Homo sapiens: one gene and its partners. The protein of the gene in region 4 purifies or fractionates together with the protein of the main gene of each other region. This does not show direct contact. Each region holds a gene or a part of one and is shown on either strand. Other genes may lie near its edges.

Region 1 (4,241 bases), on a different chromosome or scaffold from region 4:
GTTAAGATGATAAATTTTATGTTATGTATATTTTACCACAATTTTAAAACTTGGAAAAAAATAACAAAGAGTTCTCTCTTGGTGACACATCCTAAAGTGTTTAAGGATAAAACAAGATGTCTGGAATTGGCCTCAATAAAATTTGGCAGTGATCGGAGACGTAAGTAAATCAAAGCTGGCCACGTATTGGTAAGCAATCATTCTTGGTCTTGTCTACCTATCTGGATTTTCCGGCTTTAGCAGGATAGGACTGGATGCTCTCCAGACAGAGCAGTGCACTGAAGTGGGCCTGGGTTTTCTAAATTGTCCTTTTGTTCTCAGTTTGGGGATCGATGTTGGGTTAATACGGTGACATTCTGATTTCAACTCCAAATACCAAGAATTGGTAATCCTGAATAATTTGTATCCAATCTCTTGAGCATAGTGGGTTCTTAAATAATAGTAGCTGAGTCAAGTTCCTTATCTAAGAGCATACATACACATGTATGGCATTTGAAAAAGGTAAAAGTCCCTCACAAATAAGACAGTGTTTTAACAACTGAGAAGAGTGGATCCAAAAATAAGATAAAGACTATTAGAATCAGATTAAATTAAGACAGTAGTTCTCAACCAGGAGTGCTATTCTGCATTCTTCAGAAATGGGAAAGGGGCGGCCGGGCACGGTGGCTCACGCCTATAATCCTAGCACTTTGGGAGGTCGAGGTGGGCAGATCATAAGGTCAAGAGATGGAGACCATCCTGGCCAATATGGTGAAACCCCGTCTCTACTAAAAACACAAAAATTAGCCAGGCATGGTGGCGTGCACCTGTAGTCTCAGCTACTCGGGAGGCTGAGGCAGGAGAATTGCTTCAACCCAGGAGGCGGAGGCTGCAGTGAGCCAAGATCGCGCCACTGCACTCCAGCCTGGCGACAGAGCCAAGACTCCGTCTCAAAAAAAAAAAAAGAAATAGGCAATGGGTTCGGGCGCAGTGGGTCACGCTTGTAATCCCAGCACTTTGGGAGGCCAAGACGGGTGGATCACTTGAGATCAGGAGTTCAAGACCAGCCTGGCCAACATGGTGAAACCCCGTCTCCACTAAAAATACAAAAATTAGCTAGGCCTGGTGGCATGTGCCTGTAATCCCAGCTACTCAGGAGGCCGAGGCAGGAGAACCCAGGAGGTGGAGGCTGCAGCAAGCCAGGATCACTCCACTGCACTCCAGCCTGGGCGACAGAGCGAGACTCTGTCTCAAAAAAAAAAAAAGAAAAAGAAAAAGAAAAAAAGAAATGGGCAAGGGTAGTTTTAATAGTACAATGAGTGGGGAACTCATTCTCTACTCATTTAGCCAGGAATGCTCAATACAGGACAATCCCACAAAAATAACTTTTCCATCTAAGATGCCAGATACTACTGTGAGTTTTTCTCCATACGCAGGAACTAAGTCCCAGAAAAGTGATGTGCTGAAAAGCCAGGTTTTTTCTTTCTTTCTTTCCTTTTTTTTTTTTTTTTAGACAGAGTCTTACTCTGTCACCCAGGCTGGAGTGCAGTGGTGGCACCATCTCGGCTCATTGCAACCTCTGCCTCCCCAGTTCAAGTGATTCTCCAGCCTCAGCCTCCCAAGTAGCTGGGACTACAAGTGCCCACTACCACGCCTGGCTAATTTTCATATTTTCAGTAGAGACGGGGTTTCACCACATTGGCCAGACTGGTCTCAAACTCCTGACTTCAAGTGATCCACCCGCCTCGGCCTCCCAAAGTGCTGGGATTATAGGCGTGAGCCACAGGGCCTGGCCCAGGTTTGTTTTTTTTTTCACTAGTTAGTAGAAATAACCAAGGATTCCTGATCCCTAGTATATTATTCTGATAGGTAACCTAGCTACACATTTTTAAAAAAATTTTCTTTCTTTTTTTCTTTCTTTTGAGACAGAGTCTTGCTCTGTCGCCAAGGCTGGAGTGCAGTGGTGCAATCTTGGCTTACTGCAAAGTCTGCCTCCCACACTCAACCGATTCTCATGCCTCAGCCTCCCAAGTAGCTGGGAATACAGGTGTCCGCCACTGCACCTGGCTAATTTTTGTATTTTTAGTAGAGACAGGGTTTTGCCATGTTGGCCAGGCTGGTCTTGAACTCCTGGTCTCAAGTGATCCACTTTCCTCGGCCTCCCAAAGTGCTGAGATTACAGGCATGCACCACTGCACTGGACCTTAGCTACACATTTTAAATGGCATATATAAGATTTAACTAAAGAAAGGTAAAGAAGATGCTGTCTAATGATCCTTTTCAGTTCTCAAAGCCTGCAATTAAATCAATCAAAATTCAAATCTGACAATGGGGGCCAGACATGGTGGCTCATGCCTGTAATCCCAGCACTTTGGGAGGCCGAGGCGGGTAGATCACTGGAGGTCAGGAATTCGAGACCAGCCTGGTCAACATGGTGAAGCCCTGTCTCTAGTAAAAATAAAAAACTTAGCTGAGCATGGTGGCACACGCCTGTGGTCCCAGCTACTCAGGAGGCTGAGGAACAAGAATCGCTTGAAACCAGGAGGCAGAGGCTGGAATGAGCCAAGATTGTGCCACTGCACTCCAGCCTGGGTGACAGAGACAGACCCTGTCTCAAAAAAAAAAAAAAAAAAAAATCTGACACTGGGGAATATGCAAAAAGAAATTACTCATCTGATAGTCCTGTGGTTTCTATGTATAAGGGGCTTAAGGAAGATGTCTGCCTGGGAGGACTACAACTGTGTTTGTACAAGAGTATTAGTGAGAACATCAACTGCCTACATCAGTGAAGCCAGAATGCTTAAGTTGCACTGAACATCCCCATGTTTTCACACCTATGTGGACACCAATATTTTTTCTTTCTGTATCTGTCTCCTTCCCAGTCTCACTCACTGCTTTATCCTTGTGCCTAGCATATGGATGGTAAACAAATAGTAAAACAAATTACTTGTTTCAGGGCAGTAAAATTTAGTTCATCTACAGTTTTTAAAACATACTTTGAGGGCCTGGCGTGGCTGCTCACGCCTGTAATACCAGCACTTTGGGAGGCCGAGGCGGGTGGATCACCTGAGGTCAGGAGTTGGAGACCAGCCTGGCCAACATAATGAAACCCCATCTCTATAAAAATACAAAAATCAGCTGGGTGTGGTGGCGGGCACCTATAATCCCAGCTACCTGGGAGGCTGAAACAGGAGAATCACTTGAACACGGGAAGCGGAGGCTGCAGTGAGCCAAGACCACGCCATTGCATTCCAGCCTGGGCAACAAGAGTGAAACTCTGTTTCAAAAAAATAAATGGGCTGGGTGCAGTGGCTCACACCTGTAATCCCAGCACTTTGGGAGGCTGAGGTGGGCGGATCACGAGGTCAAGAGATTAAGACCATCCTGGCCAACATGGTGAAACCCCATCTCTACTAAAAATACAAAAATTAGCCAGGCATGGTGGCACGCACCTGTAGTCCGAGCTACTCAGGAGGCTGAAGCCAGGAGAATCGCTTGAACCGGGGAGGCAGAGGCTGCAGTGAGCTGAGATCATGCCACTGCACTCCAGCCTGGTGGACAGAGCGAGACTCTGTCTCAAGAAAATAAAATAAAAAACACATTTTATATTTGAAACACGCTGGGCGCGGTGGCTCACGCCTGTAATCCCAGCACTTTGGGAGGCCGAGGCAGGCGGATCACAAGGTCAGGAGATCGAGACCATCCTTGCTAACACGGTGAAACCCTGTCTCTACTAAAAATATAAAAAATTAGCTGGACGTGGTGGTGGGTGCCTGTAGTCCCAGCTACTCGGGAGGCTGAGGCAGGAGAATGGCGTGAACCCTGGAGGCAGAGGTTGCAGTGAGCCGAGATTGTGCCACTGCACTCCAGCCTGGGCAACAGAACAAGACTCCATCTTAAAAAAAAGAAAAAGAAAAAGAAAAAGAAACTTACCAAAGAGCCTTTCCTAGCCTAAAGAGGGAGCTCTGTAAATGAGGGCCTATGAAGAATGTTGACACTAAGGTCTCTTCCAGAACTTACATTCCAGGAGTAGGTTAGTTCAGGGATAGTTAACTACATTTATATAATGCTTTACAGAACTTCTCTCAAATTACACTATTACAGGTTTTCTTTATTTTAACACCAGTGCACAAGACTCTATATTTATCCCAGTTAAATGTCAACTAGCTGGATTCTGGCCTGTCAAGATATATCCGATTCTAATTTCATCACTGAACTTTGCTATCCCAGCTTTGTGGCATCCTTCTTCAGCCTGCCAAGAG
Region 2 (4,241 bases), on a different chromosome or scaffold from region 4:
GGGGAGGCCCAGGGGCCCAGGAGACCTGAGACCGGACCATGAAGTGGACCCTCCTAGACAAGGAGGAGGCTAGGATAGATGGAACAAGTTCCCTGGAATGTGATGCTTCTGCTTTGGGAGTTTGAAAGACAGGGATACAGCATGGACACTCATGCCACCCAAACAAGCTGCTGGTGGGAGACTATCTCCCACATCCAACTGTGCACCCAGCACTCCCACCCAGCACTCCTACCGACGCAGACAACAGCTCCAGCAGCACACCCACCCTGAGCTCCTCTTCAGCCGGAAACCTGCTGCTCCCACAGACTTCCGTGTTCAAAGAAACAGCAACTCCACCCATCAGCCGCCCAGGCCAAAAGACTTAGGAGTCATTCTGGACTCTTCTCTTGTCATGTTGGCCAATTCTGTTAGCGCCACCTTCAAGACACATTTAGACTCTACTCCTTCCCTCTGTCACCACCACTGCCTGGTTCCAAGCCACCTGTGCTGCAGCACTGGCCCCTAACTGGCCAGTCAGCAGCCACACTTGCCCACCGTCCAACCACTCTCACCAAGGACGCCGTAAAACATCAGACCGCACCACGCTTCAGCACAAAACCCTCTGATGGCTTCCCGCGGCACTTGGAACAAAAGCCAAAGTCACTGCCATGCCCTACAAAACCCTACAGGAACCCATCCCCCAGACTCGGCCTGTCTGGAAGCACTTCCCGCACTCATCTGCGCAGCCTGCTCTGCCTGTGAGAACTGATCATCCACTTCCCATCGAGTTACAGCCCCATCCCATCGCCCTCACTGCCTGGCCTTCACGACATGCTGTTCTATTTTTCCCCTGGCAGAACATGAACCTGAAGAGGTGGCGCTCTCCAGCCTGCCTTCTGAGGCCCCCTCAACGCCCCGCGGCATGTCTGGCGCTCAATCTGCAGGACAAATGGGCCCAAGTTTCCAAGCCAGGCCCACACTGTAGATGCCACCCACTCCCTAGGGTGCTTCGCGGGACTTCTGACCAGCTGTTAGGTGTGAAAAATAAAACACACCACATGGTCCCTGGCCTCAAACAATGAAGTGAAGGAAAGCCAGTGTGAGCACGTTCTAGCCATACCTCAGGCTGCTAAGCAAGGACCTCAGGCTGCCAGGCCAGCGGGACCAGCAAGCAGAGCACCGTGAGGTATGCTGAATGTGGACACGGGTCTGCCGGGGGGGGCGGTGCAGCCCAGCCTTTGTGGGGACAGGGCAGCAAAGCCAAGAGGAAACAGGCTCGACCTCAGCCAACTCCTCGGGTCGGGATCCCCAAGAGGCTTCCCACACGCAACCTGCTGGGACTCCGGCACCCATCATGCAGAAACGCAAGCAGGACCCTAGAACAGCTACCCTGAGCCTCAGAGTCCAGCTCTGCCCTCAGGTTGAGAGCCCTCAGCCCTGTCCTTTCTAGATTGGAGGACTGTCCTCCCCTCATTCATTCAGCCTCTCACCTGGTCTTGAGTTCAGAAGAGATGTTGTCGAAGAACGACTTGGATTTGTCATAGTAGCAGTTGGGCCCCAGAAGGTCTTCCTCAGCGGGCGCTTCGGCACTCTGGGTCACCACAGCCAGGTCCTTCTCTTCCCCCTTCTCAGCCTTGTCATCTACAAAAAGAAGCAGAACACGTGGAGATGGAGGAGGGGCAGAGCGCACAGCCTTTTAGCAGGGTGGTCCCTCCGGGCTCACTCGGAAGCCACCCTCAAGCTAAGACATCAACTATGCCTTGTGCAAAGCAGAAATCTCTTCTTCTACCTTCTAAGTACAGGTCTCGTTCTGCCGTCTGGGCTGTGCAGTCTGCACCTTATCCCACCCATTTTCACACCTCCCAGCACCTCACTTCATTAATTCCTCACTGCCGGTCACCATCCGCCTGGCATCCCCGGTTCCTCTAGGCATCTCTTCCTTTTCCTTGAGACAGAGTCTTGCTCTATCGCCCGGCTGGAGTGCAGTGGCGCAATCTTGGCTCACTCCCACTGCAACCTCCACCTCCTGGGTTCAAACGATTCTCCTGTCTCAGTCTCCCGAGTAGCTGGGATTACAGGCGCCCACCACCACGCCTGGCTAATTTTTGGATTTTTAGTACAGATGGGGTTTCATTGTGTTGGCCAGGCTGGTGTTGAACTCCTGACCTCAGGTGATCCACCCACCTCAGCCTCCCAAAGTGCTGAGATTACAGGCGTGAACCACCACACCCGGCCAGGCATCTCCTCCTAACACTCTCTAGGGGTACTCCTGTGCAGAGAATAATTTTCATATAATGAGCCAAACCTTTAAAATTCAGTTTCTTCTTAAATTCTTTGTCAAGCTCCTCTCGGTTGAACTGGGCATTTGCACTCTCGAAATCAAAGTCACCCTCAAATTTGATTGTGTTTTCCTTAACGTTAGTTGGACGGTTTTGCCCTCTGGAGCGATTCCTTGTTCGCCTGTTTCCTGTGAGGACAAAGGACAGCCCTGGCTGAAGTAGGTCACCAACCCAGTGATCTCAAACACCTCACAAGGAATTTCCAGGCACACCCCCAAGGCCACAGAAGGAACAGAGCACACAAGCAGCGACTTCACACCAGCACCCCTGAAACCGTCAACCAGAGAAGCAGGCAGGAGGGCAAGCAGAGCTCAGCCTGATCACTCGTGGTCCCCAGAAATCAAGTGGCAACAGGTGTTACCTGATCGCCTCCTCTGAGGTCTTCTGTTCTCGTCATTCACCTGCCCTTGAGCTTGCACAGCTGCCGGCTGGACTACATCTACGGCGCAAAAGGGAAGAGTAAGGCAAAGCTCCTATAGCAGCCGGAAGCCAGAACCCAGCTGTGGAAGCAGGCCCCACCACCATGGGGCACGCGGCCAGGGCGGCACCGCAGGAGGCTGCTGCACAGGCCTGCCCTGCAAAAGCACATGGGGCTTAGGATGGGGGAGTAGTATTTTTTTAATTAAAAAAAAAAAAATAGCCCAGGAAGTAGTGTGCCACTTTTAGAACATCAAGCAAACTCCAGGAAATGATGTGTTCAAGTACCGCTGGCCGTCTTGCTGCTCGGCTGGGCCTGACGACCGTTGAGCTGCGTCCCTGTGGTGCCCTTGCCAGGTAACAGCTTTTTAGCATTCAGGTTGTCAGCAGAACCAGTCTGCACAGCCTGCTCCACCATGGGGCTCTTGCCGACTGGGATGGATGGAAAACCAGCTCCTGAATTGAGGAGGGGAGGAGGGTTTAAAAACAGAGAGAAAAGAAGCAAGCCTTATATCTCCAGGCATTTCTCTTCTGCTGGCATGTCAGGAAGGAAAGGAGGGCAACTGCCTAGATGTTCTATCAAATCCAGGCAAAGCACCCCCAGACTGGGCCATTCCCTCTGAGGCTAGCCCAGGCAGCAAAAGAAGGCCAAGAGTCACTGGGCAGCACCAAGGCCAGTTCATCTTTGGACTCCCCACTCCCAAAGCCCTGAGCTTCCCAAGTTAGGGAACCTCAAGGACAGGAAAAACACCGTGCCTACAAACAGGCACCTCCCCAGAAGTGTGGAAACAGCTTTCTTAAAACCACACAAGCTCCAATCCCAAAGGAGCTCAGCAGCCCCAAGATCCTGATGAATTCAGGATCTGAGAATTTGTTTCATTCTGGTCCACACTGGAGAAGAACCAGCCCAGCCTGGGATTTTCTAGAAAATGCAGTGAACAAATTCTGAAGTTAAATTCTACAACACTGTCATTTCCACTTAAGGCACAATAAAACTAAAAATGATGAAGCAGGAGCTGACTTCCGAGACGTAGCAGCCTACACTTCTCTCAAGGGCAAAGGCTCATCATGAAGACACAAAGGGCTCCTAGGTAGCCTTTGGCAAGGGGCTATGCCTATGAAACTGCAGTCCGAGGCCCACGCACAGGGGATGAACCCTCAGAAACCAGGCCCTCTGAATCAGGAGGAAAATGGGAAGCACCACCCACCTCTCTCCATCTCCTCCCTTTCCAAGGTTCCAGGACCTGTAGGGACTCTAAACAGGACAATGTGGGACTGGGTGTAAGTGAACAGAGATCTGAAACAGAAAAGGCACCCTAACCACAGGGTAATTATTATTAGACGAACAGCCCAATACACATGAAGACTGGGCATCTCATCTTACTGCTTTTACGGAATAGAAATGAAAAAAAAAATTGACTGTAGAAAAATTCCTTGTAACCAGATCAAGAGAAGCTCTCAAAGGGCAGGTTGGAACGACTCTGCATAGAGGTCTGGAAAGTGTCC
Region 3 (4,241 bases), on a different chromosome or scaffold from region 4:
CTCCTGCCTCAGCCTCCCGAGAAGCTGGGATTACAGGTATGTGCCACCACGCCGGACTAATTTTGTATTTTTAGTAGAGATGGGGTTTCTCCATGTTGGTCAGGCTGGTCTCGAACTCCCAACCTCAGGACATCTGCCCACCTCGGCCTCCCAAAGTGCTGGGATTACAGGCATGAGCCACCGCACACAGCTTGCTTTTTTTTTTTGAGACCGGGTTTTGCTCTGTTACCCAGGCTGGAACTCAGCGATGCGATCCTAGCTCACTGCAACCTTGACCTCCAGGGTTCAAGTGATCCTCTCATCTCAGCCTTCCGAGTAGCTGGGACCGTAGGAGCACACCACCATGCCTGGCTAATTTTTATGTTTTTTGTAGAGATGAGGTCTCACTATGTTGTCCAGGCTGGCTTTGAACCCCCAGGCTCAAGCGATCCTCTTAACTTAGCCTCCTAGATAGCTGGGACTATAGGTGTGAGTGATTGTGTCTGGCTCGGTCTGTCTCTCTCTTTTTTTCTTTTCTTTTTTGAGACAGGGTCTCATTCTGCTGTTGCCCAGGCTGGAGTGCAATGGCACAATCTCGACTCACTACAAGCTCTGCCTCCTGGGTTCAAGCAATTCTCCTGCCTCAGACTCCTGAGTAGCTGGGATTACAGGTGCCCAGCACCACACCTGGCTAAGTTTTATATTTTTAGTAGAGATGGGGTTTCACCATGTTGGCCAGGCTGGTCTCAAACTCCTGACCTCAGGTGATCCACCCACCTCAGCCTCCCAAAGTGCTGGGATTACAGGCGTGAGCCACTGCACCCAGCCTCTCTCTCTCTCTTTGTTAAAAAAATCCCTGTCTCAGGACTGGGCATATTAACTCATGCCTGTAGTCCCAGCACTTTGGCAGGCCAAGGCAGGAGGATTGCTTGAGGCCAGGAGTTCAAGACCAATCTGGGCAACAAAGTGAAACACCAACTCTACAAAAAAGTTTTAAAATATTAGCCAGGCATGATGGTGTGTGCCTGCGGTCCCAGCTACTTGAGAGGCTGAAGTGGGAGGATTGCTTGAGCCCAGGAGGTGTAGACTGCAGTGACCTGTGATCACACCACTGCACTCCAGCCTGGACAACAGAGCGAGTTCCTGTCTCAAAAAAAAAAAAAAAAAAAAAAAAGCGGGGAATGGTGGCTCCCATCTGTAATCCCAGCACTTTGGGAGGCTGAGGTGGGTGGATCACGAGGTCAGGAGTTTGAGACCAGTCTGGCCAATATGATGAAACCCTGTCTCTACTAAAAATACAAAAATTAGCTGGGCATGGTGGTGGGTGCCTGTAGTCCCAGCTGCTCGGGAGGCTGAGGCAGGAGAATCACTTGAACTCTGGAGGCGGAGGTTGCAGTGAGCCGAGATCATGCCACTGCACTCCAGCCTGGGTGACAGAACGAGACTTTGTCTCAAAAAAAAAAAAAAAAATCCCTGACTTACTTCCTCAGTCTCCTCTTGGAGCTTCCTGGGATTGCCTCCCAGAAAAACCATTTGTCTCTGAATCCTTGCCTCAGGCTCTGCTTCTGGGGGAGGGGCAAAATGAAGACAGCAGGGACTATTGCCTTATTGTTCATGGCTGTGTCTCCAAGCACCCTAAACAGTACCTGGCACACAACAGGTGCTCAATAAATAATTGCTGAATGAATGAACTAAGAGGCACGGTCCTTCCCAAAGCTTTAGAGGCAGAAGGAAGTATCACTATGGAGCCTGGGTAGGTTGGCACAGAGAGGTGGGAACGCGGTGGGGAGGGCTGGGGTGTCCCCTAGTTGCTAAGGGATCCTCATGGTCCTTCCACCCCACCCCCACCCCAGGATCCCCCATCCCTGACTGCTTGGCCGCCCACCTGCTCGGCCTTCAGGGTAAGTTCGATAAAGATTTGCTGCAGCTTCTCATTGACGAAGTTGATGCAAAACTGCTCGAAGCCATTTTTCTGCAGAAGGAGGAAAAGGGTCCTTCCCTCAATGTCCTGGTGCTGGAAGTTCTTGTGGCCACCCTGGGCTGCCCCAGGGAGGACAGGATGTGGGCTGGAGGCAGGGGGCCGTACCTGGAAGATCTCGAAGCCGTAAATGTCCAGCACACCGATGCTGTACTCTTCCTGGGGTTTCTGCATAGCACGGTTGATGGCCTGCGGTGTGGGTGGGGACAGGAAGTCAGTGGGCATCGGTCAGATCTGAAGCCCCTGCCCACCACTCCTTAGACACACGCCTAGCCAACTTCATGGGTGATGTCCCCTCATGCCAGTTTCCCTCCAGCCCTCTTTAGCTCTGCCCTTCCTGGCTCTGTGTACAGTCTCCCCACCCCATAATCAGTCACTCAGAGGAGAAACCCAAGTGTCAGTGTATCAGGGTCCCTGACTCCAGAGCTGACTCTGCCCCTGAACCTCTCTGCACCTCTATTTTCTTTTTTTTTTTTTCTTTTTTTTTTTTGAGACGGAGTCTCACTCTGTCGCCCAGGCTGGAGTGCAGTGGCATGATCTCGGCTCACTGCAAGCTCCGCCTCCAGGGTTCACACCATTCTCCTGCCTCAGCCTCCCAAGTAGCTGGAACTACAAGGGCCTGCCACCACGCCCGGCTAATTTTTTGTATTTTTAGTAGAGACGGGGTTTCACTGTGGTCTCGATCTCCTGACCTCGTGATCCGCCCGCCTCGGCCTCCCAAAGTGCCGGGATTACAGGTGTGAGCCACTGCGCCCGGCCTTGCACCTCTATTTTCTTATCTTTAAAAGGGGTTGATAATAGCAACTACCTTATGGGGCTTTTTCTTTTCTATTTTTTTTGAGATGGAGTCTCATTCTGTTGCCCAGGCTGGAATGCCAGTGGCGCAATCTCGGCTCACTGAAACCTCTGCCTCCAGGATTCAAGAGATTCTTCTGCCTCAGCCTCCCAAGTAGCTGGGATTACAGGCATGCGCCACCACGCCCGGCTAATTCTTGTATTTTTAGTAGAGACGGGGTTTTGCCATGCTGGCCAGGGCTGATCTTGAACTCCTGACCTTGGGTGATCTGCCCGCTTTGACCTCCCAAAGTGCTGGGATTACAGGCATGAGCCACTGCACCTGGCCATACATTTTATACTTTATTTATTTTTATTTTTTATTTTGAGACAGGGTCTCAGTCTGTTGTCCAGGCTGGAGTGTAGTGGCTTGATCATGGCTCACTACAGCCTCAACCTCCTGGGGTCAGGGATTCTTCCACCTCAGCCTCCTGAGTAGCCGGGATTACAGGCACCAGCCACCATGCCCGGCTAATTTTTGTATTTTTGTAGAGACAGGGTTTTGCCATGTTGCCCAGGCTGACTCCATACATTAAAAAAGTTTTTATTTTATTTATTTATTTATTTTGAGACAGAGTCTCTCTCTGTTGCCCAGGCTGGAATACAATAGCACGATCTCAGCTCACTGCAACCTCCACCTCCCAGGTTCAAGTGATTCTCCTCCCTCAGCCTCCCAAGTAGCTGGGATTAAAGGCATGTGCCACCACTCCCGGGTAATTTTTAGTAGAGAGGGGGTTTCACCATGTTGGCCAGGCTGGTCTCAAACTCCAGACCTCAAGTGATCCATCCACCTCAGCCTCCCAAAGTGCTGGGATTACAGGCATGAGCCACTGCATCTGGCCAAAAGTTTTTTTTAGAGACAGGGTCTTGCTCTGTCACCCAGGCTGGAGTACAATAGCGCAATCATAGCTCACTGCAGCCCCAACCTCCTGGGTTCAAATGATCCCCCAACCTCAGCCCTCTGAGTAGCCAGAACTACACATGCACACCACTACACCCAACTAATTTGAAATTTCTGTAGAGATGGGGGTCTTGCTATGTTGCCCAGGCTGGTCTTGAACTTCTGGCCTCAAAGAATGCTCCCAACTCAGCCACCCAAAGCATTGGGATTGCAGCCGTGAGCCACTGCACTCAGCTTCCATAAATGTTTGTGACCCCAGAGCATCCACTCTGCCTTCCAGCCCCAGCCCCACTCGCCTCCACGAGGAAGTCGAAGAGGCGGGCATAGAGCCCCTTGGCCAGGGCATCACGGGTGTAGGCTGCCTGCTCCACGTTGAGGGTCACATTGATGGACTCGCTGCGCCCGCCCCAGCGGCTGTCCATCTTGCGGCTGGTCAGCTTCTCCTGCAGTCGCCCGCTGTCAATGCCCAGCAGGTAGGCGGGAAAGGCCAGGACTACCAGGGCAAAGGTCAGGGCAAAAATGGGACAGTTGGTTGGGCTCTTGTGCCTC
Region 4 (4,241 bases):
GTTGGGGAGGGGGTTGTGGGGGAAGTGGGGAGGGGGATGTGGGGGAAGTGGGGAGGGACTGCTATCATTGATTGATTGATGGTGACAGGGTCTTGCTCTGTCACCCAGTTTGGAGTACAGTGGTGTGATGATGGCTCACTGCAGCCTCGACCTCCCAGGCTCAAGGGATCCTCCCATGTCAGCCTCCTGAGTAGCTGGGAATATAGGCATGCGCCACCATGCCCAGCTAATTTTTTTTTTTTTTTGAGACGGAGTCTCACTCTGTTGCCCAGGCTGGAGTTCAGTGGCATGATGTCGGCTCACTGCAAGCTCCGCCTCCTGGGTTCACGCCATTCTCTTGCCTCAGCCTCTCGAGTAGCTGGGACTACAGGCGCCCGCCACCACGCCCGGCTAATTTTTTTGTATTTTTAATAGAGACGGGGTTTCACTGTGTTAGCCAGGATGGTCTCGATCTCCTGACCTCATGATCCGCCCGCCTTGGCCTCCCAAAGTGCTTGGGATTACAGGCCTGAGCCACTGCGCCCGGCCCCAGCTAATTTTTTATTTTTGTAGAGATGGGATCTCGCCTAGGGTGTTCTTGAACTCCTCCTGCCTTGGCCTCTCAAAGTGCTGGGATTACAGGTGTGAGCCTCTGCAGCCAGCCTGGGCTGCTGTCATTTATTTCAGCATGAGTTTGTAAGAACATGACCAAGACAGATTCCAGATTTCAAGGTTATTGTTGTTTAGGATGAAGTCACGTGATAAGTGTGAGTGGGCTGAGTTAGAGTGAGGCAAGCCCTGGGACACTGCAGAAGTTGTGGGGACAAGGATGGCTGCGGTTGGAACTCCAGGGAGTGAAGGCCCCCTCTGACCCAGTCCTGCCCTCTACCCTTCCAGGCTTTTTGAAATGGGTTTCGCAGAGCAGCTGCAGGAGATCATCGCCCGCCTCCCCGGGGGCCACCAGACGGTGCTGTTCTCCGCCACGCTGCCCAAACTGCTGGTGGAATTTGCCCGGGCTGGTGCGTGAGCTGGGGGTGGAGATGGGGGCTGGGGGTCAGGCTGGGGCCTGGGGGCCAGTCCCTCTGCGACTCCCCCACTTTCCCCCATGTCTCCTGCAGGCCTCACGGAGCCCGTGCTCATCCGGCTTGACGTGGATACCAAGCTCAACGAGCAGCTGAAGGTGAGGCTGCACCTGTCCCATCCCAGGAGGTTGTGTCCAGGTGGGCCCTGCAGGCCCTGGGCCAGGACCCCGTAAGCCAACACGTGATGCCCTCTCCCCACAGACCTCCTTCTTCCTCGTGCGGGAGGACACCAAGGCTGCCGTGCTGCTCCACCTGCTGCACAACGTGGTGCGGCCCCAGGACCAGACCGTGGTGTTTGTGGCCACGAAGCACCACGCCGAGTACCTCACTGAGGTGAGCAGGGTCCTGAGTGGGAGGAGCACCTCCTTCAGCTGGAGTTTGGAGCTGCAGTTCCCTGTGCAGTCACTAGAGGGCAGCACGAGAGCGGACCAGGAGCCTGGGCCTGGGCTCAAGATGGTCATTTTTATTTTTATTTTTTATTTTTTTGAGACGGAGCCTCGCTCTGCCATCCAGGCTAGAGTGCAGTGGCACAATCGTGGCTCACTGCAGCCTTGACCTTCCAGGCTCAAACAATTCTCCCGCCTCAGCCTCCCGAGTACTTGGGACTTCTGGCGCATGTCACCATGCCCAACTAACTTGTTACTTATTTTTATATTTTGTAAAGACAGGTTCTCACTCGGTTGCCCAAGCTGGTCTTGAACTCCTGGGCTCAGGTGATCCTCCCACCTTGGCCTCCCATAGTACTGGGATTATAGTACTGGGATTATGAAAACATTTCTTTTTTTTTTTTTTTGGAAATGGTATCTCACTCTGTCGCCCAGGCTGGAGTGCAGTGGCACGATCTCAGCTCACTGCAACCTCCACCTCCCAGGTTCAAGTGATTCTCCTGCCTCATCCTCCTGAGTAGCTGAGACTTCAGGCGCCACCATGCCTGTCTAATTTTTGTATTTCTCATGGAGACGGGGTTTTGCCGTGTTGGCCAGGTGGGTCTTGAACTCCTGACCTCAAATGATCTGCCCGTCTCAGCCTCCTAAAGTGCTGGGATTACAGGTGTAAGCCACAGCGCCTGGCCTAAACTTTTTATTGTGAGAAAATTTCAAACCAATTCTAAGATCAGAAAATAATATGATGAACCCCGGGTACTCGTTATCTAGGTACAACTGTTACCAGCTGATAGCTGGTCTTGACCTTCATCCGTTAGTTCCCCTTACATCCGGGTTATTTTGAAGCCTGTCCCTGCCATCCTGTTATTTTCCTGTAGATTTTTAGTATGTGGTTTGTTTGACTTCTTAAGATTGAGGCATGACCTGCATGTAGCAAGCTGTGTGAAGCGCTGTTAGCATGTGTGAGTGGCTCAAAGATTTTTTTCATATGTGTTATGCCTGTGTGACCCCCGCCTGGGTCAAAGCCTGGGGAGTCGCTGTGCCCCAGAAGGCAGTGGGGCCCCTTTCCGTTGGTGCCTGCCTCCCTGTCAGCTACACCTGGGTCTGTTATCTGAGGACATGGTTCACTGGGTTTCACTTACTCCACACACAGTTAACAACACTCCCTCTGTGCAGCTGCTGGGGTCACCAGTGAATAAGACCAAAATAGTAATTTTTAAACAGTTGTTTTTTTAGAGAGAGTTTTGCTCCTTTGGCCAGGCTGGAGTGCAATGGCATGATCATGGCTTACTGCAACCTCTGCCTCCTGGGCTCAAGTGATCCACCCACCTCAGCCTCCGAAGTACCTGGGACTGTAGGCACAAGTCATGCCTGACCATGCCAGCTCATTTTTTATTTATTTTAATTTTTTTTGTAGAGATGGTGTCTTGCTGTGTTACCCAGGCTAGTCTCGAGTTTCTGGTCTCAAGTGATTTTCCAGCCTTGGTTTCCCGAAATGCTGGATTACAGGCGTGAGCCACCATGCCCAGTTTAAATAGTAATCTGTAAAGAACAGCTAGCACTCTCATGAGTGTTCCATGTTGAGACTCTGTTCTCAGCACTGTATATACTGACTCATGTGATCCTCATAATAAGGCACAAAGAAGGGGCAGTTATTCGTACAGATGAGGAAAATGAGGCATAGAAAAGTTTGGTAACTTGCCCAAGGTCACACAGCTTGTTTGTAGCAGAATCCGGATAAGGCTTGTGCACTGAGGTGGCATTTGCAGCTTCCCTGAGAGGGCCCTCTGCACACATCATCTCTGATCCTCAGACAACCCTGCAGAGAGGTGGGAGGTGTTGTAAGCTCCATTCCTCCCCAAACTGGCATCACCCAGCAAGCTGGGATTCAGACCAAGGGTGCCAGACTCCAGAACCCGTGGTCTTGTCTCTGCACCTCAGTGCCCGTCCCCCGCCATGGTCTGGCTTCCTTTCCTTTCTCCTCCAAGTCTCCTTCTCACTTTGCTACCATCTTTGCTCTGAGCAGCTGCTGACGACCCAGCGGGTGAGCTGCGCCCACATCTACAGTGCCCTAGACCCGACAGCCCGCAAGATCAATCTCGCCAAATTCACGCTTGGCAAGTGCTCCACTCTCATTGTGACTGACCTGGCCGCCCGAGGCCTGGACATCCCGCTGCTGGACAATGTCATCAACTACAGCTTCCCCGCCAAGGGCAAACTCTTCCTGCACCGCGTGGGTAAGCAGCCCGTGGCTGGCCCTGGGGCAGGCAGGGGTGCCGGATCCTGGCAGAAGCCGAGGGTACAAGGCTTAACTCTTGACACTGCACATGGGGTGGCTGTGGGCCTTGTTTTAGAGACAGAGCCTCGCTATATTGCTTAAGCTGGTCTCAAACTCGCGATCGTGCCACTGCGATCCAGCCTGGGTGACGGAGCAAGATCTTGTCTCAAAAAAACCAAAAAAAAAAAACAACCCAATTATTCAGCTTATGGTTTTTTTGACTTTACAATAGCACCCATACAGCTGTTCTATTTTTTTCTTTCAGTACAGTATTCAATAAGTTACATGAGATACTCAACACTTTATTTTAAAATCGGCTATGTGTGGGATGATTTTGCCCAAGGGTAGGCTAATGGAAGTATTTGGAGCATGCTCAAGGCAGGCTGGCTGAGCTGCGATGTTTAGTGGGTTAGGTGCCGTGCGTGTGTTTTTGACGGCTATTGGGTTTATTGAGACGCAGCCCTTCGTAAGTCACGGAACAGCTGTGGTCTCATTTCAGAGATCACTGTCCCCCATTGC
Region 5 (4,241 bases), on a different chromosome or scaffold from region 4:
GTACTTTGGGAGGTAGAGGTGGGCAGATCACTTGAAGTCAGGAATTCGAGACCAGCCTGGCCAACATGGCAAAACCCTGTCTCTACTAAAAATACAAAAAAAATTACCCGTGGTGGTGCCCGCCTGTAGTCCCAGCTACTTGGGAGGCTGAGGCAGGAGAATCACTTGAACCCGGGAGGCAGGGGTTGCAGTGAACTGAAATTGTTCCACCGCACTCCATCCTGGGTGAAAGAGCAAGACCCTGTCTCAAAAAAGAAAAGAAAAAATTGAATACACTCTTTGTCCTTTCATGTGAATCAGTGGCTTATGTTCACTCAGCAAACATAGGAAGCCACAGCAATCAAAAATACCTGAGAGAATAACTGTGAGAAATAACCTGCCAAGCTAATTTTATATTCTAGTCTATAGAATTACGGCAATTTGGAAACTTACAAGACATATCCTGGTGCTACTGGCCTCCGGATTGAGATTGGGGTTGCAGGTGGCAAGAAGGTGGATTTGTGTCAAGAGCTGAACATGCTGGGGAGAGAAAGAAAATAATGCAGTGATATGTTATGACACTGCCATTTCAGGAGCCCAGAGATATTTTTTTTTCCCCCTGGAGACAGGGTCTTGCTCTGTCACACAGCTTGGAGTGCAGTGGTGCAACCATGACTCAATGCCCTCTCAACCACCTGTGCTCAAGCAATCTTCCCACCTCAGCCTCCCAAGTAGCTGTGACCACAATGCCTGGCTAATTTATTTTATTATTATTATTATTATTATTTTTAGACAGAGTCTCGCACTGACTTTTGGGCTGGAGTGCAATGGCGTGATCTCGGCTCACTGTAACCTCTGCCTCCCAGGTTCAAGTGATTCTCTTGCCTCAACCTCCCGAGTAGCTGGGATTACAGGTGCCCGCCGCCACACCCAGCTAATTTTTTGTTTTCGTAGAGACGGGGTTTCACCATGTTGGCCAGGCTTGCCTCAAACTCCTGACCTCATGATTCACCCGCCTTGGCCTCCCAAAGTGCTGGGATTACAGGTGTGAGCCACTGTGCCCAGCCTTATTTTTATTTTTTGTAGAGACAGAGTCTCACTATGTTGTCCAGGCTGCTTTTGAACTCCCCTGCTCAAGCAATCCTCCCACCTCAGCCTCCCAAAGTGCTGGGATTACATGTGTGAGCCACTGCACCCAGCCACCAGAGAGTCATTAACTAAGATGTTTGCAACTTTATGACACAAATTTTGCTTTCTGCAAAGAGTGTGAGAACAACGTAGGATCTTGGCATAAATTTCTCAGACATGTTCCCTTGAACAAAATGACAGAACCAGAGGAAGTTTAACCTCTAAACAGAGGAGGAACTGAGATTAGAAAAGGAAAAGGCCGGGCGCAGTGACTCACGCGTGTAATCCCAGCACTCTGGGAGGCCGAGGCGGGTGGATCACGAGGTTAGGAGATCGAGACCATCCTGGCTAACACAGTGAACCCTGTCTCTACTAAAAATACAAAAAATTAGCTGGGTGTGGTGGCGAGTCCCTGTAGTCACAGCTACTCGGGAGGCTGAGGCAGGAGAATGGCGTGAACCCGGGAGGCAGAGCTTGCAGTGAGCTGAGATTGAGCCACTGCACTCCAGCCTGGGTGACAGAGCGAGACTACGTCTCAAAAAAAAAAGAAAAAAGAAAAGGGAAAAGGGAAAAAAAACTACTTGTCACAGTGAAGGTTAAATTTCAGAATAGATTACTGAGGACTCTTTGAAATCTGTAATTCCGAATACCATTAGGGTCCTTATGTGCTGTCTTCCCTGAGCCACAGGACATGAACATGATGACTTCTCAAGCTCCTAACTGATGTGAAGATACTACGGTTTTAATACGTAGTAAGGTAACTATCTCTGACATTTACAAAGCTGCTAATTTTAGATTATACCAAAGCCTCAGAGTTAGGCCTTGGTATAATTCAATATTAATATGACCAAGGAAAGTGTTACCTGCTGCATCTGCTGCTGGAGTCTCTTCCTTTGTGCTGGGTCCAGAATCAGGGTCTGATGAACTTCCTTACACTGGGGTTTAACCTTCTCTACCTCCTTCTGCTGTTTGGCTGAAGGTTTCTTCATCTTCAGCTGTTCAAATAGTTCCTTCGCTATCTGATGTTGTTCATTTAGTAGGTTGGCCAGTAGTTCCTCAAACCTATCCCAAACGGGGATGACTGAATTTGAGTGTTTTCCTAGGTCCACAACACATCCAATTCTTTGCAATGATGAGCAAAGAGCCTGAACAATTTTCATTCCCTACTAATCCCCCCTTTTCACTTTAGCCAACAGTCAAACTCCCAGCCTTACACAAATCTTTTCCCAAAGTAGTTAGCATGCATCAAATGATTCTGTATTACACCCCATCCCATTCCTCTACAATTCCTCTTCCAAATAATATACAAATGAAGAAAAAATTAAACAAAAAACTAGGGACAGAGAAATATATGGGTAAGAAAGCAGCCAAGGAGCTGGTGGGAACTCATCATTCTCATTTCTTCTCTCATTACTTGTTACTCCCTGGGATGTTACTCCCATCCCAGGTCCAGCTTGTCCCATTATCCTATCTACTCAGGCTGCACTGCCCTGCTTTCTTAACAAGTCAAAGACTTTCTAGCATGAAGCAGGAAAAGGATATACCAAAATAACTGAAGTACATGGTAGTTCAAATGAACAGAACGGAGAAGTTAGTTAAAATATTATCCATGAAGGCTATCTTCTTTTAGCCCTTTAAATTCCTCTTCCAAGGTTCCTAACCCTAACTTCCCATCCATACCCTCCTGAAAGATTGTTTGCAGGGCTGAAGCAAAAATTCCAATACCTAGCATGTCAGTTCTATGTATGATTACTATACCTTTTCTATGTTTACATAGAAAGAAATAAAGGGAGAATAATATACCTAAATGATTAAGCATATGCTGATACCCTATGCAACAGGATAAGATCTGCTGAAGTAGCTATAACAAGCAGGTTATCATATTTCAAGGAACCCCCTATATTACAGCAATAGTTAAATGGTAACGTTTTTCAATAGTTTTTGCAGATAAAGATTACGTTTGAATAAGTTTTCTTTTATAGTATTTACTGTAGGTTTGGGTAGCACAGAGTAAAAACCTGAAGACCGTGGGACTGTCTATACAATCTTTACTGAGAACTGAAAATTTGAACATCCGCGCTACCACCACTGAAGGAACAGAAGAGAAGAAGCATAAAAAAGTAGAAAATGGAAACATAGCCTGCACTTAGTTTTAACAAGGATTATTTAGGTAATTGATAAGGGAAGCCCCAGAGTTTTTGTTTTGACTGTCTTTTTCTCCTCTCTCTTCCTTATTGTGTTTTAAGATGTGCTTACTCTCTATGGACTTACAGAGGGATTTTTATTTAGTCAAAGATTAAAACAAAAACAGGTTTGTATTTGCAATCGAAAGAGAAGCAGAAGCTGCCCAAGTACAGTCATGCGCCACAGAATGTTTCAGTCAATAACGAACCACATAGTCAGAGGTGGCTCCATAAGATTACTGTACCTTTTCTATGTTTACATACATATGTACTTACCATTGTGTTACAACTGCCTACAGTATTCAGTACAGTACAGTAACACACTGTACAGGTTTTGTAGCCTGGGAGCAATAGGTATGCAGTAGGCTAAACCATTTAGGTTTATGTAAGTACATTCTACGATGTTTACACAATGATGAATCGTTTAATGATAGATTTCACAGAGGGTATGACCATGAGATGATATATGACTATATTCCATTGAATACCAGAAGGTAACTGGATTCTAACAGGAATTTTAAATTAGTTCTATATTTTCCAAATTTTAAGAAGTTATAAAGAGTTGATCAGCAAAACCAAAATATTTATTAATCAGATCCTATTATACGTTCCCAGGATGAATGGTTCCATTCTGCTATACCAGAATTTTGTTCTATGAACTATAAATTAAAATAATGGGTCAAATACTGACTTAGCAATCTTGAGATTTTTGATGTAGTTGTATTGTGATATTTGTTGTAATGGAGAATGACTAGTAGTTCTAGTTTTTAAGACATTGGTTGGCCTATCTTATCTTTTTTCACTAAATTGGAAAATCCCTAAAGGTCTAGCTTTCAGATGGAACCCAAGCTCTCTGCTTAGTAGTGCTGTTAAGTTCAAACACAGGACTAATTACAGGGACTATTCTCTTTGCTTTGTTCCACTTATGGCACAAACTGCATCCTGACCTCT
Region 6 (4,241 bases), on a different chromosome or scaffold from region 4:
CTGACTAATTTTTGTATTTTTAGTAGAGACAGGGTTTCACTATGTTGGCCAGGCTGGTCTTCAACTCCTGACCTCATGAGCCACCCACCTTGGCCTCCCAAAGTGCTGGGATTACAGGCCTGAGCCACTGCGCCCGGCCTAGTAAAGCACATTTGAAAGAATCACACCAGTTTTAATCAATGGAACATACCAGTTTTTAGTCTTAATTTCATTCTTCAAATTTGCCACTATTTTTCCAAGCTTTGTGGCGCCAAGGCTTCCAAAACTGATCTGGATTTACTATGGATCTACATGAATTCTGTGAAGCTTACCAGAAATCTTTACCGCAGTCAATGCAAGAAAGGCATTCACAGTTTCTGCAAACAGACACATGCTTTTCCACTTGTATTTTCTTCACTGATTCACCACATGCATTGCATGTAAAAAATACCATTTTTAGGTAAATGGCTAAATATTCTCTATCCAAGACAGGTTTTAAGTCTTGTCCTAAGGAAAAAAAGACAATTATAATTATAAACTGAAACTTCTCATTTCAATAAATGGCTCATGCCCCTAACTTTTCAACCATAATTTCACATGAAAATAACAGAGTCAAAGTTGATTAGCAATCTACATAAAATTCCACCATTCATATAAGTAAAACTAACATTAACAATGAGAATGGCTAACATTTATTGTGTCCTTACCACGTGCCAGGCACTATTCTAGAGGCTTTACATTTATTCACTTATTCAATCCCCGCAGTAACCCTATGAGGGAAGGACTATTATTGTTCAAAATTTATATGAGGTAACTGAGACACAGAGATTACATAACTTGCCCAAGGATACACGGTTAACAGAACCAGGATTTAAACCTGGCAGATTGGCTCTCAAGATGAAGAGCTTTGAGGGTGTTAAATCTTACTTTCCATAATACCTTAAACTCTCTCTCTGTATATGAAACTTATAGAAGGCATTGCAATTTAGGTGTACACTACAAACTATTTCAGGTCCTCAAATATACTAAGAACACAGCAAGAGGAAAACTGAGTGAAGTTTAGAAAGTGAAGAAGAGGCAATTCTATGGGCACAATTTCTATGGCACTAAAAGCATTCATATCAATATTACTATATATCTACAAAGGTTAAAATGAGGACATGCGCCTCAGCTGTAATGGACAGGGGCCTTCTTCATGTGGCAGCTTGTCAGACAAGTCAGAAAGAAACGGAACCAAGTCCAGGTGTCCCAACTGCTGGGTGCTGAATTACTGGAGTTCACAAACCCAGGTGTCCCGAGCACTGCCCCAAAAAGAAGTATGTCTGCACACGCACATAAACATCATTGTAAAATTTCACAGAAATGCTACCGTGCTCAGGAAAACACAAATTCGTCTAGAAGTGTTAGAGAAGTCACAGTAATTTTCCATACTTACATAATTTTTAATCACTAGATTTTAAAACAGCATTGTTGTTTTACATTATAAGTTTTACAGCAAAAATACTGAGAACTGTTTAACCCAGAGCTTTCTTCCTCATTAGGAAAATAAAGGTGAGGGTCAAGTAAACCGATGCAATTTACTTCAGGGTAGGACTTCATCCAACAAGCTTTCAGTACAAATGATCTACCCTTGGTTTGCAGAGAATTCCCATGCATGAAATCACCGTTGCTCCTCCACCAGCATGTTTTGGATCACTGCCAGTGAGGCCACACCCAAGCAACGACCAAGGTTATTCATGTCCATTCAGCCTTGAATGGAAATGTACATCCTGGCTGCATCTCCAGGGTTCACAAAGGTCCAGCTGGTCTCTTGTGGAGGCCTCTTGCCCTGTGGGACACTATCAGACATCAGCTCAGCTTCTACGCTACATACAAACCACAGACCCCTGATTCCGCGGTCCCAGGCCCCGCTCCTCAGCTCACTATCAGTGTATGTTAGTAAACGGACAGCATGTGGTCAGCTACAACCTAGCACCAAATCCTCAGGAAGGAAAACATGACTACCCTCGATGTGCTGCAGCAACTGTCATCTTCTCATCTGCTTACTGTAAAGATGTGTGATATTGTCAAGCTCCTGGGAGCTGGAATCACGTTTCCCACAACCCAGCTCCCTCAAAGCTTACCATTCTAAAAAAAGGCAGAGGGATGATCAACATGTCAGGCAACAAGAGCAGCTATCCTGCCTGACAAGGGAGAACAAAGGCTGGAATAAGAGCCAACATCACATTCTCAAAGAGCATGGAGGTGCACTTTGGTGTAAGAGCAGGAATAACTTATTAGTCACCAAGAAATAGATTGTCATCACAGGCACAAGGTGAAAGCAGCCGTGATATGCCAAATTATCTGCTGAAAAACGTTAAAGCACTTTTCTAATAAGATACAACAACAAAAAACAGTCTCTGAAACTTAGATACGGCTTAGAGCTTGCCAACCTCTGTTGCTGAGGACAATTCTATTTCTGGATGGAGTGGGAGATGGGAGGAAGAAAGGTTTCGACAAGGCTTAAGAGTGAATTGAGAGATTCCTGTCCCAGCAGGAATTAAAGGCCTAGGAAGGAAGCTGGAAACAAAATATATTGACTGAAAGAAGCAGTGAAAGCAGTGATGTTGACAAAAAGATACTCAAGAGTAACTGTGCCAAACATTCTATCTCTCTGGAGATCGGCTACACACTACAGTGTAATTAAATATCAATTCAGAAGGTGATTAGAATCTGGTTACATGTCCAGCTAAAAAATAACTCTCACATCATTTTCATTTGGTCTTTACTTGTTTAAGGCCAAATGGGTGGATTGCACAGGAAGTCAGAACTGTCTCTTCCTGCCTTCCTCCGGATTTTTACACTTGCCATGAAATGGGAACAGCTCTGTGTCCACTTGCTTGGCTAATGAGCTAATGTCTGTAAGGAGCTTACCTCTCCTTTATTCAGAGCCTGGAGGACAGTCCAGCACCTTGATTACACCTCAAACCCAACCTAGCCCCAGGCGAAAATACCTGTAATTTATGCCATAAACACTTGCTTGGGCTTCAAAGAAAAGCTCAAAACCATCAGAAGCTTCAAAGTCAGCCTAACTGCACAGCAGACAGGGTGTCCCAGGTCTTAGTGCAGGCTTAATATTCGTAAGCGTAAATGCTACAAACTTACAAAAAGCCGTCAGGTGGAAATTCAGTCCCTCTAATGGAAGACAGCAAACATTGCCTAAAACAAAAATGTAAATACTACAAACTTACAAAAAGCCGTCATGTAGAAATTCAGTCACTCCAATGGAAGACAGCAAACATTGCCTAAAACAAAAAAGTAAAACGGTATTGTTCAAATTCCACAAGACTAGATAAGCATGAAGGAAATTTAATTAAACTTTTTTTTTTTTTTTTTGAGAAAGGAGTCTCGCTTTGTCGCCCAGGCTGGAGTGCAGTGGTGCATTCTTGGCTCACTGCAAGCTCCGCCTCCCGGGTTCATGCCATTCTCTTGCCTCAGCCTCCCGAGTAGCTGGGATTACAGGCATCCGCCACCACGCCCAGCTTATTTTTTGTATTTTTTAGTAGAGATAGATGGGGTTTCACCGTGTTAGCCAGGATGGTCTCAATCTCCTGACCTCGTGATCCGCCTGCCTCGGCCTCCCAAAGTGCTGGGATTACAGGCGTGAGCCACCGCGCCCGGCCTTAATTAAATTTTAAATGATGTTTTGGCAAGTTTGGATCATTTATGCTTCTGAAATTATGAAAGCTTAAAACTGCATTAAGATTTTGAGGACACCCAGTCTGCCGGGCTCAGATGTGACAGATTTCAACATCTAGCCCTAAGTGTAAAAAGACAGCAGTTTTTTCATGGGGCTGGATCTAAATAGAGTCCTCTTTTCCTTCCCTGGCTCCCCAACTCCCTCTGCCCAATGTCCAGTCCCAGCGCAGCCAGAGAGATTCTACATGCTTTCCTTCTGGCCACATGCGCATGTTAAAAGAGAAAGGCAGGCAGAAGGCAGTGTTCTTGGACTGGTTGAGAGCATACTTCGGTTCTTGCTCAGTCACTTTAACTCAATTCGGCAGACATTTCCTGAATGCTGACACTATCCTATCCACCCAGATACACCTGGGGCCCTCACGCAGGTCCTCTGCGTGTGCTCCTGGCTGCGTCTTCGTCTGTCTGTATGGTCAGTTTACTGAGCTCTCATCACATGCCATACCCATGAAAAAGATGACGGGGTCTGCACCATAGAACACATGATCATTAGCTCTCTACAAAGCCGTGTCCCATTTATGAACACA
Region 7 (4,241 bases), on a different chromosome or scaffold from region 4:
ACGTTTTAAGAACATGCTTCAATTATGTTTTAAGTTATTTAAAAAATAAAAGTCAACAAATTTTTATCGGAGTAAGCTAATAGAAACATTGCCCTAAAAATACCTCATCTGTAAAAATCTCAAATTTATCTTTTTCCCCTTTTAATGAAATCTCTATTGCACGTATATTACACAACTGCTGAGCCAGTACATAAGCTTCATAGAAAATTTCAGACATGCAATCATAAGATCAAAGAGTAAGGTCCTACACCTTTGGCCCCAAGCCAAAAAACACTACTGAAAAACCATTACCATTTACTTGCTTTAGGAAAAAAGCCAAGACTACTTAGACCTTTCCCACTTGCAGAAAAATTTACATGTTTCTGAATATGGATCTAATTTTAAGTTCCATCTTAATGTGCTCTTTCTTTCAGAGGTGAAACAACTAATACATGTGCTTCTGAGCCACAGCTTAAAAAAAAAAAATCTCCTGATCTCAATGTGTATCAACAGCCATTAAAATATCCACACTCTTGGCTGGGCGTGGTGGCTCACGTCTGTAATCCCAACACTTTGGGAGGCCAAGGGTGGATCACCTGAGGTCAGGAGTTTGAGACCAGCCTGACCAACATGGAGAAACCCCATCTCTACTAAAAATACAAAATTAGCTGGGCATGGTGGTGCATGCCTGTTATCCCAGCTACTCGGGAGGCTGAGGCAGGAGAATTGCTTGAACCCGGGAGGCGGTGGTTGCAGTGAGCCAAGATCACGCCATTGCACTCCAGCCTGGGCAACAAGAGCAAAACTCCATATCAACAACAACAACAACAAAAAAAATCCATATTCTCTGACCAGTAGTTACACTTATGATAAACTAGACGAAGGAAATAAAGGCATATATAGAAAATATTACTAGTACCTAAAGCTATACACACACAAAATATATTTATTAAATAAAAACAGCATTAATTTTTAACAAAAAAATAGTGCCAAGGTAACCATTCTCTTATTGTTGGATGTTTGTGAAATATTAGGCATCCAAAGTGATGGTTATTAGCTGGGCACGGTAGTGGGTGCTTGTAATCCCAGGTATTCAGGAGGCTGAGGCAGGAGAATCGCTTGAATCCATCCAGGAGACGGAGGTTGCAGTGAACTGAGATCACGCCACTGCACTCCAGCCTGGGCAATAAAGCAAGACTCCATCTCAAAAAATATATATGTAATATACTATAATACAATATAATACAATAAACAAATGTTTTTTAAAAAATTATGGTTATGGCCAGGCACAGTGGCTCATGCCTGTAATCCCAGCACTTCAGGAGGCTGAGGTGGGAGGATTGCTTCAGCTCAGGAATTCAAGACCAGTCTGGGCAACATAGTGAGACCTCCATCTCTAAAAAAATAAAATAAAAAAATTAGCCTGGTGTGGTGGCATGCACCTATAGTCCCAGCTACTCAGGAGGCTGAAGTGGGAGGATTGTCTGATCCTGGAAGGTTGAGGCTACAGTGAGCTATGACCATGCCACTGCACTCCAGCCTGGGTGACAGAGCAAAACCCTGTCTTAATAAAAAACAAGGGCCGGGCGGGGTGGCTCACGCCTGTAATCCCAGCACTTTGGGAGGCCAAGGCGGGTGGATCACAAGGTCAAGAGTTCAAGACCAGCCTGGCCAACATGGTGAAAGCCCATCTCTACTAAGAATACAAAAATTAGCCAGGCGTGGTGGCGCGTGCCTGTAATCCCAGTTACTTGGGAGGCTGACACAGGAGAATCACTTGAACCCGGGAGGCGGAGGCTGCAGTGAGTCGAGATTGCGCCACTGCACTCCAGCCTGGGTGACAGAGCAAGACTCCATCTCGGGGGTGGCGGGAACAATAAAAACCAAAAAAACCAAAGTGATGGTTATAAAAGCAATATATAAATGTGAAAAATGCTTCTGATGTAATGTCAAAGAAATCAGAATTTTACAATGAGTCTGACTGTAGCTATATAAAAATTCATACACATAAGAAAAACAAAATAAATACTAATAATTTTCTTTTCTCTACTTTCTATACTGTCATAATGCAATAATACGCTTATTTTTATTTTAAAAGAATGAAAGTGAATTTTAAAAAAAGTCTGACTCTGAGATCTGTGTTCAGATTATCCCTTTGGTAAGACCATACTGGGCCAGGCCTGACGGCTCACACCTGTAATCCCAGGGGCGGATTACCTGAGGTCAGGAGTTCGAGACCAGCCTGACCAACATGGAGCAACCTTGTCTCTACCAAAAATACAAAATTAGCCAGGTGTGGTGGCACATGCCCGTAATCCCAGCTACTCAGGAGGCTGAGGCAGGATAATAGCTTGAACCCAGGAGGCGGAGGTTGTGGTGAGCCGAGATCATGCCATTGCACTCCAGCCTCGGCAACAAGAGCGAAACTCCTCTCAAAGTAAAAAAAAAAAAAAAAAAAAAAAAAAAAAAGATAAGACCATACTGGACAAAGTAAGTAAAAATGGAGTTGACTTTCACATTTGTTAATATTTATTAAAGATACACATATATTGGTACTTCTACTTTTTTTCAAATGAAAACTTTCTCTCTTAGTCTGTTTGGGCTACTATAACAAAATACCTTAGACTAGGCAATTTAGTATTTATTTATTTTTTGAGACAGGGTCTCATTCTGTTGCCCAGGCTGGAGTACAGTGGCTTGATCATAGCTCACTGCAGCCTCAACCTCCCAGGCTCAAGTGATCCTCCCACCTCAGCCTCTCAAGTAGGTAGGACGACAGGTGTGAACCACCATGCCTGACTAAGGCTATTTTTTTTATTTTTTTGTAGAGGCAGAGTTTCGCCCCATTGTCCAGGCTGGTCTCGAACTCCTGGACTCAAGTGCTCCACCCACCTCAGCCTCCTAAAGTGCTGGGATGACAGGCATGAGCCCACAATGCCCAGCCAACTAGGCAATTTATAAACAGAATTTTTCTTTTTTTTTTTTTTGAGACGGAGTCTCGCTCTGCCGCCCAGGCTGGAGTGCGGTGGCGCAATCTCGGCTCACTGCAACCTCCGCCTCCCAGGTTCACGTCATTCTCCTGCCTCAGCCACCTGAGTAGCTGGGACTACAGGCGCCCGCCACCACGCCCGGCTAATTTTTTATATTTTTAGTAGAAACGGGGTTTCACTGTGTTAGCCAGGATGGTCTCCATCTCCCCACCTCGTGATCTGCCCGCCTCAGCCTCCCAAAGTGCTGGGATTACAGGCATGAGCCACCGTGCCCGGCTATAAACAGAAATGTATTGCTCACAGTTCTGCAGGCTGGGAAGTTCAAGATTAAAGCATCAGCAAACTTGGAGTCTAGTGAGGGCCCATTCTTCACAGATGGTACCTTCTGTGTCCTCTCATGGTAACAAGCAGGCTCCTTTCACATATTTTTTTTTTTGAGATGTCCAACATGAATTTTGAGGGGACACCAACATTCAGACCATAGTACTTTCATCTTCCCCTTAAGTAATTAGGGGCTTTCATGAATGAGTATCATGTGGAAGAAATAACCCTAGATTTATTTGGGAGGAAAATATATACATACATTCATCAGTTGCAAATACCATTTGGATATTTGGACCATAGCTCCTAGTATAGTAGCCACTAGCTAAATACATGCACAAAATTAGACTACTAAAAAATTCTTACTTTTCTAATTGTCAATTACCTGTATATACATATGAGAATGTTCATTCATTTAAACATATACTGAGTGTTTACTAAGTGCCAAGCATATTGCTTGGTAATGGAATTACTTTAAACAAAACAGACCTTGCCCTGCACGCCCATGGCCAAGAGGTGGATACGAAAACAAATAATTACAGTACAAAATAATACATTGTATAAAAAGAGATTAATAAGGAAGTAAGTAGCAACACTGTAAGAGGATAAGAGAAGACAGTGGCAAGAAACACAGGGCTAAAAAGGCAACTTCTGGCTTTAGCCTATAGTTATTGGGCCAGGAAGGATGAAGTCAGACATCTTTAAAAGGCAGACCAAAGGACATAAGAACAAATATGTTCTTAAGTTAGTAGACTAAAACTTGCCAAGAAGTCTTCTGGCCAAAGTTCTTTTCTATGAAATAGTGAATGGTATCCTTAAGTCCCACAGCACTTTAGAGACACACTAATTCTCTGAAGCAACTAAGTACACTTCGAAAATTACCAGTACTTCCCAAACTTAAGAATATACCTCCAAAATACTTATTTAACGCTGGTAGTTTATTTACCAGGT

Evidence for each region.
Region 1: the proteins of DDX54 (region 4) and CLTCL1 purify together in Homo sapiens (affinity purification with mass spectrometry; one large-scale study listed by BioGRID and IntAct). This does not show direct contact.
Region 2: the proteins of DDX54 (region 4) and LSM14B purify together in Homo sapiens (affinity purification with mass spectrometry; one large-scale study listed by BioGRID and IntAct). This does not show direct contact.
Region 3: the proteins of DDX54 (region 4) and MYO1F purify together in Homo sapiens (affinity purification with mass spectrometry; one large-scale study listed by BioGRID and IntAct). This does not show direct contact.
Region 5: the proteins of DDX54 (region 4) and YY1AP1 purify together in Homo sapiens (affinity purification with mass spectrometry; one large-scale study listed by BioGRID and IntAct). This does not show direct contact.
Region 6: the proteins of DDX54 (region 4) and LYAR purify together in Homo sapiens (co-immunoprecipitation; 2 studies listed by BioGRID and IntAct, with this or other methods). This does not show direct contact.
Region 7: the proteins of DDX54 (region 4) and RBM27 purify together in Homo sapiens (affinity purification with mass spectrometry; one large-scale study listed by BioGRID and IntAct). This does not show direct contact.

What each region holds. Positions count from the first base shown.
Region 1 is NC_000022.11:19,281,398-19,285,638, forward strand, and holds part of CLTCL1 (clathrin heavy chain 2), read right to left. Parts: intron 1-4,241. UniProt on the Homo sapiens protein: Clathrin is the major protein of the polyhedral coat of coated pits and vesicles. Two different adapter protein complexes link the clathrin lattice either to the plasma membrane or to the trans-Golgi network.
Region 2 is NC_000020.11:62,128,735-62,132,975, reverse strand, and holds part of LSM14B (protein LSM14 homolog B), read right to left. Parts: intron 4,052-4,241; coding exon of another isoform or gene 3,944-4,051; intron 3,192-3,943; coding exon 3,024-3,191; intron 2,758-3,023; coding exon 2,680-2,757; intron 2,447-2,679; coding exon 2,285-2,446; intron 1,621-2,284; coding exon 1,470-1,620; intron 621-1,469; exon of another isoform or gene 1-620. UniProt on the Homo sapiens protein: mRNA-binding protein essential for female fertility, oocyte meiotic maturation and the assembly of MARDO (mitochondria-associated ribonucleoprotein domain), a membraneless compartment that stores maternal mRNAs in oocytes.
Region 3 is NC_000019.10:8,546,172-8,550,412, forward strand, and holds part of MYO1F (unconventional myosin-If), read right to left. Parts: intron 4,186-4,241; coding exon 3,989-4,185; intron 2,147-3,988; coding exon 2,066-2,146; intron 1,952-2,065; coding exon 1,865-1,951; intron 1,155-1,864; exon of another isoform or gene 1-1,154. UniProt on the Homo sapiens protein: Myosins are actin-based motor molecules with ATPase activity. Unconventional myosins serve in intracellular movements. Their highly divergent tails are presumed to bind to membranous compartments, which would be moved relative to actin filaments.
Region 4 is NC_000012.12:113,171,793-113,176,033, reverse strand, and holds part of DDX54 (ATP-dependent RNA helicase DDX54), read left to right. Parts: intron 1-876; coding exon 877-998; intron 999-1,097; coding exon 1,098-1,159; intron 1,160-1,262; coding exon 1,263-1,394; intron 1,395-3,470; coding exon 3,471-3,681; intron 3,682-4,241.
Region 5 is NC_000001.11:155,674,578-155,678,818, forward strand, and holds part of YY1AP1 (YY1-associated protein 1), read right to left. Parts: intron 2,170-4,241; coding exon 1,971-2,169; intron 520-1,970; coding exon 433-519; intron 1-432. UniProt on the Homo sapiens protein: Associates with the INO80 chromatin remodeling complex, which is responsible for transcriptional regulation, DNA repair, and replication. Enhances transcription activation by YY1. Plays a role in cell cycle regulation.
Region 6 is NC_000004.12:4,283,310-4,287,550, forward strand, and holds part of LYAR (cell growth-regulating nucleolar protein), read right to left. Parts: intron 3,264-4,241; 5' UTR 3,210-3,263; intron 487-3,209; 5' UTR 434-486; coding exon 312-433; intron 1-311. UniProt on the Homo sapiens protein: Plays a role in the maintenance of the appropriate processing of 47S/45S pre-rRNA to 32S/30S pre-rRNAs and their subsequent processing to produce 18S and 28S rRNAs. Also acts at the level of transcription regulation.
Region 7 is NC_000005.10:146,209,672-146,213,912, reverse strand, and holds part of RBM27 (RNA-binding protein 27), read right to left. Parts: intron 1-4,241. UniProt on the Homo sapiens protein: May be involved in the turnover of nuclear polyadenylated (pA+) RNA.